Linked DNA regions of Homo sapiens: region 2 is linked to region 1. The links come from fine-mapping of genetic effects on gene expression. Tissue or cell type: cerebral cortex. Region 1 holds a variant in brackets; the other region holds the start of a gene. All regions are shown on one strand. Distances are from middle to middle.

What was found. PIP is the estimated chance that this variant, and not a neighbour inherited with it, causes the effect.
Region 2: it holds the start of KANTR, and the variant in region 1 is fine-mapped to the expression of KANTR in cerebral cortex (GTEx, PIP 0.97).

The regions. Positions count from the first base shown.
Region 1 is chrX:53,165,068-53,173,173 of GRCh38, forward strand. No RefSeq gene overlaps it. Among named protein-coding and RNA genes, the nearest start is that of MIR6895, 26 kb to the right of the region's middle. The variant G/A (reference allele first, on the strand shown) is at 3,743.
Region 2 is chrX:53,090,329-53,098,434 of GRCh38, forward strand. KANTR (KANTR integral membrane protein) reads left to right here and starts at 3,814. Exons shown (of 3, transcript NM_001397448.1): 1 at 3,814-3,956. RefSeq lists enhancers at 2,906-3,730, 3,443-3,502, 3,813-3,932 and a silencer at 3,993-4,142.

The DNA.
Region 1 (8,106 bases):
TTTAAAAGGCCTTTATGTTTTTCTTTTCTTGGATCTTGTTTTCTGGAAAAAGGTTCTTCTCAGTCGGCTGAATTATTTTCTTCCATTTTTTTTTTTTTTTTGTCTTGCCACTCTTAGTGCATGCATGAAAGGCCCTGAGATAACTTCTGGTAGCATGGGACTCCTTGGGAAAAATAGAGGAGGTGCCACAGACCCTGTTTTGGGGAAAAACCTGTTTTCCTCATGAAACCCCAGAAATTAAAAGCAAATAGTTCCCTCTCAAAATCAAAGGCTCTGTTCTGTTTTGCATTATCTGATGGTTTTGAGTTTTGCGGTATCAGAAATTACTCCGCATTGTAAGAGAGCTTTGGTGTATAATAACTAGGTAAAAAATACCCTGTAAGGGGTGGCTAATAATAGTTATAAATCAGAAAAGCATGCTCTTGGCCACCTGAAAAATAAGGAAACATCCCCACCCCACACTGGGAGATGAGACTCCCGTCAGAGATGGGCTAATTACAAAATAAGCCAGTTGGCTTTGGGTTGCCTTGCAATGAAATGCATGGTAGAAGCACTATACTGTCTTCTCCTCTAGTATCTATATGGTCTTTTCATAAATTAAGCATTGAAATAAAAGCATAGCAAGGAGGTCTTAAAACACTACTCTGCCTTTTAGTAAAAGGGTTATAAAAAGTTTGTAGAAATTTCACTTCATGGTCAAGTTGGTTAGGATTAGATGGAATAATCTATAAGGTTTTATTTAAACAAATTAGGGTTAACATTAACAAACTAATACAAGGGTAAAATTTGGTTTTAAACAGGATTTCCATGTCATAGTAAAGGCTAATAAAAGGTTTTTGACTTTTAAGTCATCATTTGGGCAAAATAATCTATGGCAGTCTGGGAACTGTCCTTCCTAATTGGCTTTTTGGATGGTTCATAGGGCCCCTGAAACATTTAAAAAAGAGATAAACAGGATTATTTGACATGTTTAGTCACATGAGATTGCCAAAATGATGTCCAATCTTCTTTAAGTTATATTTTGGTGAATAATACTAATATATGTTCAAAAATTGTATGGGATTTCTAAAATTCTAATGTCTAAGTATATGCTCTCAGTCATAATTAAAGGTAAAGTTATCGTAGACCATGGATATACACAAACTTCTTTGTCAGTCATGTTTTTAATTGTAACTACCCAGGAAATGTTGCCATTCGCAGACAAGTGTTTTGTTCCTTCTCAAAAGACGGTTTGTAATCAAGCTATATTAAGAACTTTAACAGGTGTTCTCAAATGCAGGTTTTAATAGCTTTACAGATTGTAACATTGGAACAGAGAAAGAACATAGAAAACTTTTAAAGAACTGACATGTTCACAAATATCAAGCAAAACAAGAGTTAACTAAATGAGTTGCACTCAGAAAGTTAAAGCAAGTCTTTTATCTTTTGCTTGGAATACTGCTGATCCTTGTTTTGTTTTTCAGAGTCAAGGAGAAACTTATTTTAAACTATTGATGGCCTTTAATAATTGAGTAAGGTATATTCCTATGAACAAAATTTAGAGCATGTTTATTTCTCTGCCTGGTTCCTCTGGAATTTGGGAACTATCTGTGAATACTCTTAACTTATGGCAATATAGTTGTTTGCATCGGTGCAATAAGAATCCATTTTTCTTTGTCAGCGGGACACAATTGGAAAAACTGGTTATTTTACCAAGGCTTTAACTGAAAGGGTGTGTTTCTCTTTAAGGAATCAAGCTTGACATGCAGAGCCAATAAAAGCCCCTTGGGGAGAACTGGCCTCATACCTTGTCTACACAGTCCCTGCACAGGGTTCCTAACCTGTGGTTAGTAAAGAATGTCACTTTCTAACAGGTCTGGAAGCTCCGAGTTTATCTTGGGAACTCAAGAGGAGAGGATCACCCAGTTCACAGGTATTTGAGGATACAAACCCATTGCTGGGCTCGGCTTTAAAAGTCTTATCTGAAATTCCTTGTGAAACAGAGTTTCATCAAAGCCAATCCAAAAGGCCTATGTAAAAATAACCATTCTTGCTGCACTTTATGCAAATAATCAGGCCAAATATAAGACTACAGTTTATTTACAATTTGTTTTTACCAAAAATGAGGACTAGAGAGAAAAATGGTGCTCCAAAGCTTATCATACATTTGTCATTAAGTCCTAGTCTCATTAATTGTTTTCAAGCTTTTCGCCTACATTTTAGACTAACCCTGCTTATTCCTGTGAATCAAGTAGTGGTCTCCTGCAGCTTGGAAGAAAAAATAAGGGATGGGTAATGTAAAAATCTGGATCAATATACTGGTTCTGGGCAATTATCCTGCAAATTCTGCCAGGTAATAAAAGTGAGTAGGGTGCCCATAATCCGGAAGTTTCTTTGTTTAGGAAAATAAAAACAAGGAACTTCATAGACCCCCCCCAAAGGGGAATTCTATATCTTGACAAGTAAAATTTTAGATGGAAATTATCTACAACACCACACTTACGGAAATTGCTATCCTCACTCTATTATTTGCAAAAGGGTTATACACAGTAGCACCTTCTAACTGAAGTATTAAACAGAGTTTCCATTGCTGTCGTATTTTGCTTAATTATTATCCTTATAGCAGGGATAATAGTTACTAACAAAAAGGAAGCATGAAAGTTTTACTATCACTGAGCCTGGTAGGACTTTTTATTGGGTTTAGTGATGCAGTTTTAAATGAAACATGCCGCTTTTGGATTAATACCTCTAGTAAAGGAAAATTTACAGATACTTAAAAATCAAATCAAAATTATTGATAGGCTCAGGAAAAATGCCAGCTTCAGCCCTGAGTGGCTACAAACCCTCTTTAATAAATTCCAGTCTTCTTTATGGAATTGGTTAACGCCTTTATTAAGCCCTCTCTTGCTTATATGTCTTGTATTGATATTTGGACTCTGTATATACAATACTATAACTCGAATTGTTTCTTCTCGCCTAGAAGCAATCAAACTCCAAATGGTGCTGTAAACTGAACCACACATGGACAGGCCATTCTTCCGAGGACCCTTAGATTGATCCCAGGGGGAGCCCTAGCTGCTATTCCCCATTCAACGCCCCTTTTCAGCAGGAAGTAGCCAGAAGGAGTCGCCGCCCAAAATCCCCTAACAGCAGTTAGTGTGGCATCTCCACAGGAAGTAATGTTGTAGGAGTTACTAAGAAATTATTTTAGGCAGATAGAGAGGAAAAGGGGTCCTTGGGAAGTTTTCATTTTTTAAAGCATCTCTGGAAAAGTTTCTTGTAAAGCCCCGGCTCTTAGAGCCAGGCTGGCAACCTTTGATATGCAAATGTAAGCCATTAGAAACCAGGTCCACCCAGGCCAGGTGTGGTGGCTCACGCCTGTAATCCCAACACTTTGGGAAGCCTAGGCAGGTGGATCACCTGAGGTCAGGAGTTCGAGACCAGCCTGGCCAACATGGTGAAACCCCGCCTCTAATAAAAACACAAAAAACTAGCCAGGTGTGCTGCTGTGTGTCTGTAATTCCAGCTACTTGGGAGGCTGAGGCAGGAGAACTGCTTGAACCCAGGAGGCAGAGGTTGCAGTGAGCTGAGATTGCATCATTGCACTCCAGCCTGGGCGACAGCAAGACTCTGTAAAAAAAAAAAAAAAAAAAAAAAAAAACAGCCAGGCGTGGTAGCACGCCTGTAGTCCCAGCTACTTGGGAGGCTGAGATGGGAGGATCACCCTCGACTGGGGAAGTTGAGGCTGCAGTGAGCTGAAATC[G/A]CACCACTGCACTCCAGCCTGGGTGACAGACTGAGACCCTGTCAAATAAATAATGTATGTATGTATATATGTATGTATGTATGTTAACCTCATCCCAAAACATCCTCACAGAACATCCAGAATAATGTTTGACCAAATATCTGGGCACCAATGGCACATTCAAGTTGACACATAAAATTAACCCTCACAATACCGTACTGTACAACTTTTGGAGTGAAGCTGGAATGTCATCGCATTTCCAAGACTAACTCAGTGTCCACAAATGATGCTTAAGTCATGAGGATCATCTCGGATTTGGATTTGGATGCCTGTCAAGCCCTCACTCTTCAGACTAAATGTCTGATTTGCATGGAGAATTATCAAGAGAAGCAACAATGCCAAGCAGACTATTCCAGGTCAAAATAGTCAAATTAATAATTCATAAATTATTATATGTTTTGAAGGTATTGCAAAATTAAAGTTGCAAGAACAGTACAGATAACTTTTTTCCTGAACCATTTGAGAGTAGGTTGCAGACCTGGTGCCCCATCATTTCTGAATATTTTAGTGTGCATTTTCTACAAACAAGGACATTTTCCAGCATAACCACAATGCACCCATCAATGTCGTGAAATTAATGTTGGTACATTACTACCACCTAGTCCTCAGACCCTATTCAAATTATACCAGTTATCATAATAGTTTCTTATAATTTATAGCAAAATGATCCAAACCAGGAGCATGCATTGCATTTTTATGAATTTTTAAAACAATTAAGTCTGTGTAGTGAGTGAAGCCACAGTGATAGGAATATATAAAGGCTTTGCATCTAGAATTTGTTCTGAAAACCCTGAGATTCAAGTAGTACATTATTTCATTTACTATTTTACACAGAGAAGCCCTCATTTTTAAGAGTTTGCCTTTCTGATTTCCACCGGAAATGATACTATCAGTATCATACTCAGAATCTTAATTACATACAAGGCACTAACCTCTCACCTGTTTTCAGCTTTGTGTAAAGACAAGGGATCAAAACATCCCTTTCTGCTATTTCATACTTAAGTGTGGGAGCTGATCCAAAGGAAGAATAGTTTCAAAAGTTTGTAGCAAAAAAAATTTAAAAGGTGAAGATTTTTTCCTTGAATGATTCTCACCTGGCAGATCTATGGAAAGATTAGCTGACTCTTTGGATCCCTGAATATAGTTAATAGAAATTTGGAAGGACCATGTCAAAATTAACTAATGTGAACTGACAAAGATTTGGTGTTCAAAGCAAAAATTAAACTTTGGAAAAGTGAGCAAGTACTTAATCAGAAACAAAAAAAAAAAAAAGAAAGGAAAAGTTAGGTGAAAATGGTTTCCAGGTGTTGTTGCTGTTATAGTTTGAATCATAAAAGTTGTTAAAAGTCTGCTGTAACAAACCATCATAGACTGGGTGACTTATAAAGAACAAAAATGTATTTCTCACAGTTCCAGAGGCTGGGAAGTCTAAGATCAAGGCATCAGCAGATTCAGTGTCTGGTGAGGGCCCACTTTCTGGTTCATAGATGGCACCTTCTCACTGTCTCCCCACGTGATGGAAGGGGCAAGAGGTCTCTCTTGGTACTCTTTTATTAAGGGCACTAATCCCATCCATGGGGCTCCACCTTCATGACCTATTCATCTCCCAGAGGCCCTACCTGCAGATACCATCGTATGGGGGATTTGATTTCAGCCTGTGAATTTGGGGGAAGCGGGACAAACATTCGTTTTGTAGCAAAAGGAGTAGAGTAATATCTGCCAATAACTGGAGGAAAGAATTGTTCTTTTAAAACTATTAAATTGTTTAATGGGATTTAAATGATTTCAGGAATGAAATGGAAATCCTGGTAATGGGTAGAAACATAGGTAAATTCTCCTTTTCCACTTACCACCACCTGTGTGAACAACAATCATTTCTCATTAATAGTCAAGAATTTGAAGAGATCATGAGTAAAAAGTCTTGATCAGAAATTGTGTATAGCTGTTTCCAGCATAAAACCTTATATAAAATGCATATTCATAGAAGATGCTCAAGTATGTCATGAAAAATATGAAGTTTATTTAAATATTTATACAAATTAAAGATTTACTGTATTCTCTAACAGCGCGTATTTTCTTTTTTGTAATAACTATATGAAATAAATACAAAGTAACACGTTTTTACCAAGCCCCCTTCCCATCCTTCTCATCACCCTCAAACTCCCTCCAAATAGAGTCAGAGAAACAGCCAGAGGGATGTCTCCACTGAGACACAGGGAGGTCTTGCACCCAGGCAGTTCAGCAGTTCCTGGGCGGGTGGCCCTTCCCATCTGAGTACCCCTCAATGTGCCTGCTCCTCCTGGGATCCTTTCTGCTCCCTTGGGCCTCTGTTTTTGGTCTGCAATGGTTGGTTATGTAGAGGGATCAGTATTGGGGTTGTCCCAAGCCAGGCTACAGGTTGAGCAGGTAGCCACATAGGCCACATAGCAGGACGGGCCCAGCTGGGGACTCTGATGTCTGCAATTAGGGGTGGCAGGAAGTAATGGATGCACAGGCGCTGACTTGGCCTGGCCTTAAGCCTTAGTCTAGCGGAAAGGTCTGGCTGTTTACCTGCCTTCCTATTTGGAGCTGATCCCAGGACCAAACGGGATGCCATCGTACCAAGGGCAGGGAGATGAAGGGAGGCCCTCAGAAGAGAATGAGGCCTAAATGCCAGGTAAAGGGCAGGAAGGGGTTCAATCCCAGCAGCACCTCCTGGTGGTAGTTGGGGAAATAAAATGGCCAGAGAGGAGACTGGCCCTGAAGGCATCTCCAGAGCTTGAGTCCCTCAGTAGCCAACCTGAGCTCCTAAACCCCTCTGGACTAGGTCCCCTTCTCCACTTAACCTGCCTCCTCAAGAAAGACAGGATGGGGCCGGGCACAGTGTGGCTCGCGCCTGTAATCCTAGCATTTTGGGAGGCCGAGGCAGGTGGATCACCTGAGGTCAGGAGTTCGAGACCAGCCTGGCCAACGTGGTGAAACCCCGTCTCTACTAAAAATTTAAAAATTAGCCGGGCATGGTGGTGGGCGTCTGTAATCCCAGCTACTTGGGAGGCTGAGGCAGGAGAATCACTTGAACCTGGGAGGTGGAGGTTGCAGTGAGCCAAGATTGTGCCACTGCACTCCAGCCTGGGCAACAGAGTGAGACTCGGTCTCAAAAAGAAAGAGAGAGGAAGAGAGAAAAGAAAGGAAAGAAGAAAGAAAAGAAAAAGAAATAAAAAGAAGAAATAGAAGAAAAGAAGAAAGAAAAAAGAAAAAGAGGAAAGAAAGAAAAGAGAGGAAGAAGAGGGAGGGAGGGAGGGTGGGAGGGAGGACCTTCTGGCAGGTGCCCTGGGGAAAGGGGGATGGAGCTGGAGCATGATGTGGTGGTGGGGGCGGGTGGGTCTCTTCACCTCAGAGGACTGGGTGACCAACACTGCCTTGAAGCTGCCGTCTTTCTGGAGGCCATCACAGTCTGCGGGGGTCGCAAGTCAGGGTACCCCCAGTGACCCTGGCCCTATAAAGCCTTGCATTTCTCCACCTGATCTCCCTCCCATCTTACTTCCAGTGCCCCAGCCGTTCCCAGCAGGACAAGCTGGGCCCCACCGTCTGGTTTCTAGGCCTTAGCTACTGCTGAGGTGGATTCTCCTCCTTCTCACAACCTGAGAAACCCCTACTCATCTCTCCAGACAGTTCATCACCACCTTCTCTGGGGTCTTCCTTCACCTTCCTTCAGACACAGAAAAGTGAAAATATTAGCTATGAAAAATATATAGTTGAAAGAAAGAACACAATAGATGGGACAAATAGCAGGTTGACCACAGATGAAGAATGAATAAGTGAATTGGGAGATCAGATTGAGGACCTCTCCCAGAAAGCAGCAGGAAAGAATAAAAATATAGAAAACAATAATTTAAAAAACAAGAGAAATGGAGAAATGTCCGCATTTTGATAATAGCCTTAGAGTATAATCATAAATAAATAAAGAAAATATTTGAAGAATGGAGGTAAATATCCCAGGAATAAAGTTTGCTGAATACAAAATCAGCTTACGAAATTCTATTGTATTTCTATATAAAAACAAATACAGCTGAAAAACAAAAAATTAAATTATTTAAATAGCATTAAAAAATCACTTACCTAGAAATCCCAGGAATAAATCTAACAGACAATGTGTAAATCCTTTCTGGAGAAAACTATAGCACTTGCAAAAGAGAGATTAAGGAAGATGACCAATGCCGGGCATGGTGGCTCACTCCCGTAATCCCAGTAATTTGGGAGGCCGAGGCAGGAGGATCACCTGAGGTCAGGAGTTTGAGACCAGCCTGGCCAACATGGTGAAACCCCGTCTCTACTAAAAATACAAA
Region 2 (8,106 bases), 75 kb before region 1:
AAGATGACTGCCAGGTTGGTGTGAGACCTTTGGCAAGGCCCCTTCCCTCTCTGGGCCTCCTCTGTGAGATGGTTGGAATACCAGATCCTTGACATGTCTCTCCAATGATTCTGATAAATGTTTTGGGGGGGACAGGATGGAGGCTTTGATGTGCTGTCAGAGGTGGGCAGGGAGGACTGAGGCCCAGAAAGGGGAATGTCTTGCCCAAAGTAACACAATACCTCGAGGCCAGAGCTGAGAGTGCAGGATCCCAGAGAAAAGAGACATCTACATGCAATATCTGGAGCCAACCCCAATGAGTATGCGGTGAAGAGGAGGGGAGGGGAAAGCAGCAGGGGCAAAGGCAATGGAGTAGGCCGGAGTAGGCCAGAAAGAGGTCAGCCTGCCAAAGGATCCCAGCCAATCAGAGCCAGAGTAGCCAGTCTGGTTACTCTTGCCTCAGTCTGCCCTACCTCACAACATGACTCTCCTTGTCCTCTCTAGAGGGCCTCAGTTTTCCTATCTATAAACTGAGGCTTATCGTGCAGGGGGATCAGTCCAGGAGAAGCAACCTGCCTAAGGTCTCAAGACAGAGTCTAGCCTTGAAGCAGGTCTCTGAAGTCTGGCCTTCACTGTGCTCTTCCCTGATTCCTCTCTGTCCCCCCAATCAAATCCCCAGCCCCTCATCCTGGCATTTGAGACTCTTCTTCACCCACCCTGTTAGAGAGGGCCTCTGGTCTTCATCTTCAGTGATGCTCTTAAGAGTCAATCATAGTATTCTAGTATAGTTGGCCAGGGTGCTCATGTCCTCGGCTGAGCCATGTGAGGACAGGATGTTCTTTGCCCAGAGTAACATCTTGTTCCCTGTGCCCTCACTCTTCAGTCTGGACCTCCGAAAGAGAGGGCTGTTCTAGGTCTTTAAGGTCACATCTAGCTCCAAGATACTGTCTTCGCTGAAGGCCAGAGAAGACAGGCCCCATTGGCTGAGACCTTAAACAGAAACCAGGAGGATGAAGAGTCATGGGCCCAATGTGCCCTAGGGCCTGTTCCCATGTTGAAACTACTTGTCTTCATATGCTTCCTAGCTTGCCCTCGCTCCTTTGCAGCAGAGGGCCCTGCTCCTGGGTGGGAGGTTCCTGGGATTTCCTGGGACCAGACCTTTAAAGTGCCACCTACTTCTGTGAGTAGAATCGGATTGGCAGGGACAAAACTAGATTCAAGAATGTCCCTCCTTAGGTGACCCAAAGGGCTGGCACTGGCTCCCCCAGTTGGGGGTGTGCAGGATGGTTGGGAAGGAATCCTATTATTCATTCAGTAAACACTTATGAGTACTTACTGTGTGCCTGAAGTACTGAACTGGGTGATAGGGATACAGCAGGGAAACAAGATAGAGCAAGTCTTTTTTTTTTTTTCTTTGTTGCCCAGCCTGGAGTGCAGTGGCACAATCTCCGCTCACTGCAAGCTCCGCCTGCCGGGTTCACGCCATTCTCCTGCCTCAGCCTCCCGAGTAGCTGGGACTACAGGCGCCTGCCACCACGCCCGGCTAATTTTTTGTATTTTTAATAGAGACGGGGTTTCACCATGTTAGCCAGGATGGTCTCGATCTCCTGACCTCATGATCAGCCCGCCTCGGCCTCCCAAAGTCCTGGGATTACAGGCGTGAGCCACCGCACCCAGCCAATAGAGCAAGTCTTTTTCCTCCTGGAGCCTAGAGTTCAAGACAAATATTCTTAATATTTTTTGTGCCATGGACCCCTTTGGTGATCTAGTGAAGCCTAATGGGACCTTTCTTTTTCTTTTCTTTTCTTTTTTTTTTTTTTTTTTAGATGGAGTCTCACTCTTGTTGCTCAGGCTGGAGTGCAATGGTGCGATCTCGGCTCACTGCAACCTCCACCTCCTGGGTTCAAGCAATTCTCCTGCCTCAGCCTCCCGAGTAGCTGGGATTACAGGCGCCCGCCACCACGCCCGGCTAATTTTTGTATTTTTAGTAGAGACAGGGTTTCACCATGTTGGCCAGGCTGGTCGGGAACTCCTGACCTCAGGTGATTCACCCGCCTCCGACCTCCCAAAGTTCTGGGATTACAGGCATGAGCCACCATGCCCCACCAGACCTTTTCTCAGAAAAAAAAAATTGTTTAAATTCATAAAATAAAATATCTAGAATTACAAAAGAAATTGATTACATTGAAATATAGTTATTAAAATATGGAAAAAGCAAATATGTGCTATAGTATAATCGTATATGTACTCCCCATTAATCCATTAAATCATAAGATTTAATGGAGGGTCTAATGACTATCATGATTTTAAAATAATGATTGAAATTATATGATTTTCAAGAGATCTGCAACATCTATAATGTGATATGAAAATCTCTGATTTCTATTAGTGACAATCAGTACTGCTACTACTGCTGCTACTATGCCTAGTTACATTCTTTATTGAAAAATGCTAAATTTCAGTTAGAGGAGAGGGAAAATAAAGATGTAATTTTGTTTTATTTTTTTGAGACGGAGTTTCAATCTTGTTGCCCAGGCTGGAGTGCAATGGTACGATCTCAGCTCACGGCAACCTTCGCCTCCCAGGTTCAAGCGATTCTCCTGCCTCAGCCTCCCTAGTAGCTGGGATTACAGGCATGTGCCACCACGCCCGGCTAATTTTGTATTTTTAGTAGAGATGGGGTTTCTCCATGTTGGTCAGGCTGGTCTCGAACTCCGACCTCAGGTGATCCGCCCGCCTCGGCCTCCCAAAGTGCTGGGATTACAGGCATGAGTCACTGCGCCCGGCCATAAAGGTGTAAATTTGTTCCCATCCAAATTCATGGACCTCTCCAAACCCTGTCCCCAGCCTCGATTAGAGGTCTGCAGAATACAAATTAAGAACCCTTGCAAATAGGAGGGTCCTTCCCATCTCTCCTTCCTTCTTAAACAGTTTTCCTTTGGAAGCCTGGGTTTTATTCTGGGTCTTACTGCGCCGACTGCCGGCGGTGTACGGTAAGAAGACGCAAAGACGGGGCGGTGGTGGGGAGTGGTAGCGGGAAGAGGCAGGGCCGGAGCGCGCGAGGGGTGGGGCCTGGCTGTGTGACTTCAAGCCAGTCAGTTTGCCTCTCTGGGCCATAAGTTCTGTCCGCCTGAATACTGGGAAAGAATTGGGAGGAGAGAACTTAATTATTTATGCCCCAGGCAACTGATCTATATTTGCCCTCTCATTTAATCCTCACACATTGTGAGGAAAATTTTAAAACATCTTTCCATTTCCAGATGGTTAAACTGAGGCTCCTAGCGAGGTTGTCACTTGACCAATGTCTCAGCAGGTATCAGGGACTGGTAGGTGACACGCCACATCCCCATAGCCACCTCATCCTCCATGCATGGAATAAGGAACTCTGCTCACTTTGAGCGAGAGAAACCTGGCTTAGGAATCTCTGCAGGTGGGTGTGGAACTGTGAGAAACTAGGGGCAGAATCGCGTCTCTTAGCAGAGCGGTGGCAGTGCAAGGTGGCTTATGGAGAGTAAAACGTCAAAGAAGCCAGGCATCTCGATTGTGCAGTGACTCGGCGCCTGGCGTGGCTTCCGGCTTCCCGCCTGCGTATTCCCAAGTAGCCGCCTGAAGACCTGTCGAATAGACAGGCAAAGGGCCATGACAAGCACTCCTTTCCTGGCCAATCCTATTAAAGGGTGGGCTTGGCTCTTTAACCAATCAAAGTCCCCCGAAGGGGCGGAGTTTTCCTCGGTTTGGCTCTAAGCCTCGGGGGTAAAAATAAAATGTTTCCATCCCCAGCCAATCCCTGGAAAGGCAGAAGGGCACTCCTCCAATGGGAGCCGGGGAGCCGTCGGTAGCGGCGTAGGCCCGTGCCCCTGCTCGCGCTGCAGCCCGTGGAAGGGTTCCGTCCAGCGTATCCTTCAGATCTTGCTGTAGGCCTCTGGTGTCTGTGCGCGCGCGGCAGGGGCGGCGGCGGCGACGGCCGGAGGTGTACGGTGAGAAGCCATAAAGACGGGGCGGTGGGGGGAGTGGCAGCGGGAAGAGGCCGGCCGAAGCGCGCGAGGGGTGGGGCCTGCGCGAGCTTTTACTGGGGCGGCCTCTCAACCCTAGGTCAGCGGGTTGCGGAGGATCGTGCGGGTCGCAAAGGGAAGCCGAGTGCTCCTGCGGCTCCCAGACTGCAACCAGGTGAGTACCCTGCGGAGCGGTCGGTGCCCGTTGCTGCCCTCCCGCGGCCCCACCTCCCACCCTCAGTGTCTTTCGAAACGGTTCCATGCAGGTCTGCCGCTCACGTGATCGTCTGCGTGCGTGTCTGTCTTTGCATCCCCTCTCCCATCTCTGTCTCTGTCCCACTTTTTGAGACGTAGTAGATATAAGATGCTGAATCCTGACCAGTTTAAACTAGCTATGAAACCTTGAGCTATCTCCTTCACCAGCCTGGGCCTCAGTTTCCTCATCTGCCAAATGGGGGTCTGATAATGTGTACCTGAGACAATGCATGTGCATTACTTTGCCCTGCACCCGGTCCTTAGAAAATTTTCAATAAATAATGACTATCTTGACTGAAAAGAATATTGTCTCTCTTGGTTTCTGTCTTTTCTCTGTCTCTGACCCTTCCTCCATTGGATCTTTCTGAATGCTTCTGTCTTTCTCTGTTACTGTTTTTCCTCTTTTTACCCGTCTCTTTCTCAACCCTAAAGAGGTTAGAGGTGCATAGTTTATAGCAATAAGTTTTACCCCCGAGGACATGAGCTTAGCCTGGGGCTCCGACCTGTTCTGTGGGTAAAAAATGGAGCCTGGCTTTGGGTTGCTTCTGGTGTCATTGAAGAGAGAACTCTCTTTGCTCCCCAGCCTACTCTGTTAAACAGGTAGAGACACCCAAAGTTGGGAGCAACTTAGATTAAAAACCACTTTTTAATAGCCCCTTATCCTATATAATGTTAGTCACCACAGGAAGCCCACAGATCTCCTGGTTATGTCTCCATACAGCCCTGGACATCCTATTTTCTATTTCCATCCTGAAATCCTTTGACCAGGCCTTAAGGAACTCACCTTCAGTTATCAGCAAAATTCCCTCCATTCTCATCCTGGCTTCTGAATACTCCCTTTATTTTCTTGCTATGCTTTGGTCGTTCTCATACCTGTTGGACCCAACATTGCTTTTTTTTTTTAATAAGGTGTATTTTGAAATGCTTCACTATTCTAAAATGAAATGGATAGAAAATAGAATCTGTCTACACCCATAATTCCCTGAAAACCAATATAATGCCCTAATTGTAATATAGAGAGTAGTAAAGGAAGAGTAATATATAATATTATATTATACATATATCGCACATATATATGCAAAGACTGGGATATGACTCCATTAGAAGACATGATGAAATGGTCTTACACTTAATGATAGTGACAGCTACATGTGTGTTGATTGGTGATTCAGAAGCCACAGGTAGAGTGACACAGTTTTCCTAAATAATGAACAATTCTTCACAAAGTTCTAAACAAAACAATGTGGAAGAGTTTCTCAGTTTATATGGTCGTTAAATTTCTGGAAAAATCAGTATATATTAATATCCATGATGAGACCCTCTTAATCTCCCTGACCTTATCTCCCACCACTCTCCCCCCTTGCTCACTCTATCTACCCATGCTGGCCACCTTACTATTACTTGAACACCTTAGGCACACTTCCGCCTCAGGGGTTTTGCATTCCGTGTATCTGGAATGCTCTTTCCTCAAATACCCACAAGGCTCAGGCCCTTGCTTCCTTCAGGCCTCTACTCAGCTGTCACTTTCTCAGAGGGCCCCCCAACCATCCTGTTTAAAATTGCAGCTCTCCCCTAATATGCCCCTGCTCTGTCTGTTCCATGGTATTCTACACCTTTTTCACAGTGTAGCATTAACTGCTTAGTATGTTTGCTGTTTATTGTCTGACTCTCCCACTCAATTATAAGCTCCAGAAGGGCAGGGATTTTTGTCTTTTTTGTTCTATGATACATTCCTATTACCTAAAATAGTGCTTGACACCTAGTAGACTTTCTCAATGAATGTTTGTTGAATGAATAAAAGAACAAATGAACAGGTTTTTCACCTACATTACTGGTGAGATATTCTAAAGTTGTATGGAATGTGGTATGATTCTTTGTGGTGTGGAGCTGTCCTGTACACTGCAGAGGGCTGAGCATCCCTGGTCCATAGCTAGGGTTGTCACTGATGATCTCCAATTATTGTCACAGTCAAAAATGCCCCCCAAACAGGGCCGGGTGTGATGGCTCACGCCTGTAATCCCAGCACTTTGGGAGGCCAAGGTGGGCAGATCGCTTGAGTCCAGGAGTTCGAGACCAGCCTGGCCAACATGATGAAACCCCGTCTCTACAAAAAATACAAAAATTAGCCGGGTGTTGTGGTGCACGCCTGTGGTCCCAGCTACTTAGGAGGCTGAGATGGGAGGATTGCTTGAGCCCAGGAGGCAGAGGTTACAGTGAGCCAGGATTGCACCACTGCACTCCAGCCTGGGTGACAGCGAGACCCTGTCTCAAAAAAAAAAGCAGTAAAAAATGGGTCGGGCACTGTGGCTCACACCTGTAATCCCAGCACTTTGGGAGGCCGAGGTGGGTGGATCACCTGAGGTCAGGAGTTCAAGACCAGCCTGGCCAACATGGTAAAACCCCGTCTCTACTAATAATACAAAAATTAGCCAGGCCCACATGGTGGCACATGCCTGTAATCCCAGCTACTCGGAAGGCTGAGGCAGGAGAATCGCTTGAACCCAGGAGGCAGGGGTTGCAGTGAGCCAGCCTGGGCAACAAGAGCGAAACTTCGTCTCAAAAAAAAGAAAAAATGCCCTGAAACACCCTTTAATTGTCCAGCCCCCACCTCTCAGTGAGAACCATTGCTTAAGTAGCAGCCTGGCTTTCCCTGAACACTCTGTCCTCCCGGCAGCCCTCTCATACCCCTCTTACCGGGAAACTGGGTGGTGAGGGTGAGGGTGGGTATGCTTGCTCCTAGTTACCCTTTCCAGACATTCTTCCTCCTCAAACAACCCTTTTTTCATTTGTTTTAAGTTTTTTTTTTTTTTTTTTTTGAGACAGAATCTCACTCTGTCACCCAGGCTAGAATGCAGTGGCACAGTCTTGGCTCACTGAAGCCTCCGCCTCCCAGGTTCAAGTGATTCTCCTGCCTCAGCTTCCAGAGTAGCTGGGACTACAGGCATGCACCACCACGCCTGGCTAATTTTTGTATTTTTAGCAGAGACAGGGTTTCACCATGTTGGCCAGGCTGGTCTTGAACTCCTAACCTCAAGTGATCCACCCGCCTTGGCCTCCCAAAGTGCTGGGATTACAGGTGTGAGCCACCAGGCCCAGCCAAGAATTTTTAAACTTAAAATAATTTCAAACTTTTAAAAAGCTTCAAAAATTATACAAGAATTCTCATATATTCTTCACTTAGATTCCCCACATGTTAAGAAATTATATAATTACAGACTGGGCGCAGTGGCTCACGCCTGTAATCCCAGCACTTTGGGAGGCCAAGGTGGGCAGATCACCTGAGGTCGGGAGTTCGAGACCAGCCTGGGCAACATAGTGAAACCCTGTCTCTACTAAAAATACAAAAATTAGCTGGGTGTGGTGGCTTGTGCCTGTAGTCCCAGCTACTTGGGAGGCTGAGGCAGGAGAATTGCTTGAACACAGGAGGCAGACGTTGCAGTGAGCTGAGATCATGCCACTGCACTCCATCCTGGGTGACACAGCGAGACTCTGTCTCAAAAAAAAAAAAAAAAAAAAGAAAGAAAGAAATTATATAATTACAGTGTAACTATCAAAACTAGAAAATTAACATTGATACATACAGGCATATCACAGGTTCAGTTCCAGACCAACACAATAAAGCAAGTCAGATGAATTTTTTGGTTTCCCAGTGCATATAAAAGTTATGTTTACACTGTACCATAGTCTATTAAGTGTACAATAGCATTGTATCAAAAAAAGTATTTACCTTAATTTAAAAATACTATATTGCTAAAAAATGCTAAAGATCATCCCAGCCTTCAGCAAGTTGTAATTTTTTGCTGGTGGAGGGTCTTACCTCGATGTTGATGGTTGCTGACTGAGCAGGGTGGTAGTTGCTGGTTGGGGTGGCTGTGGCAAA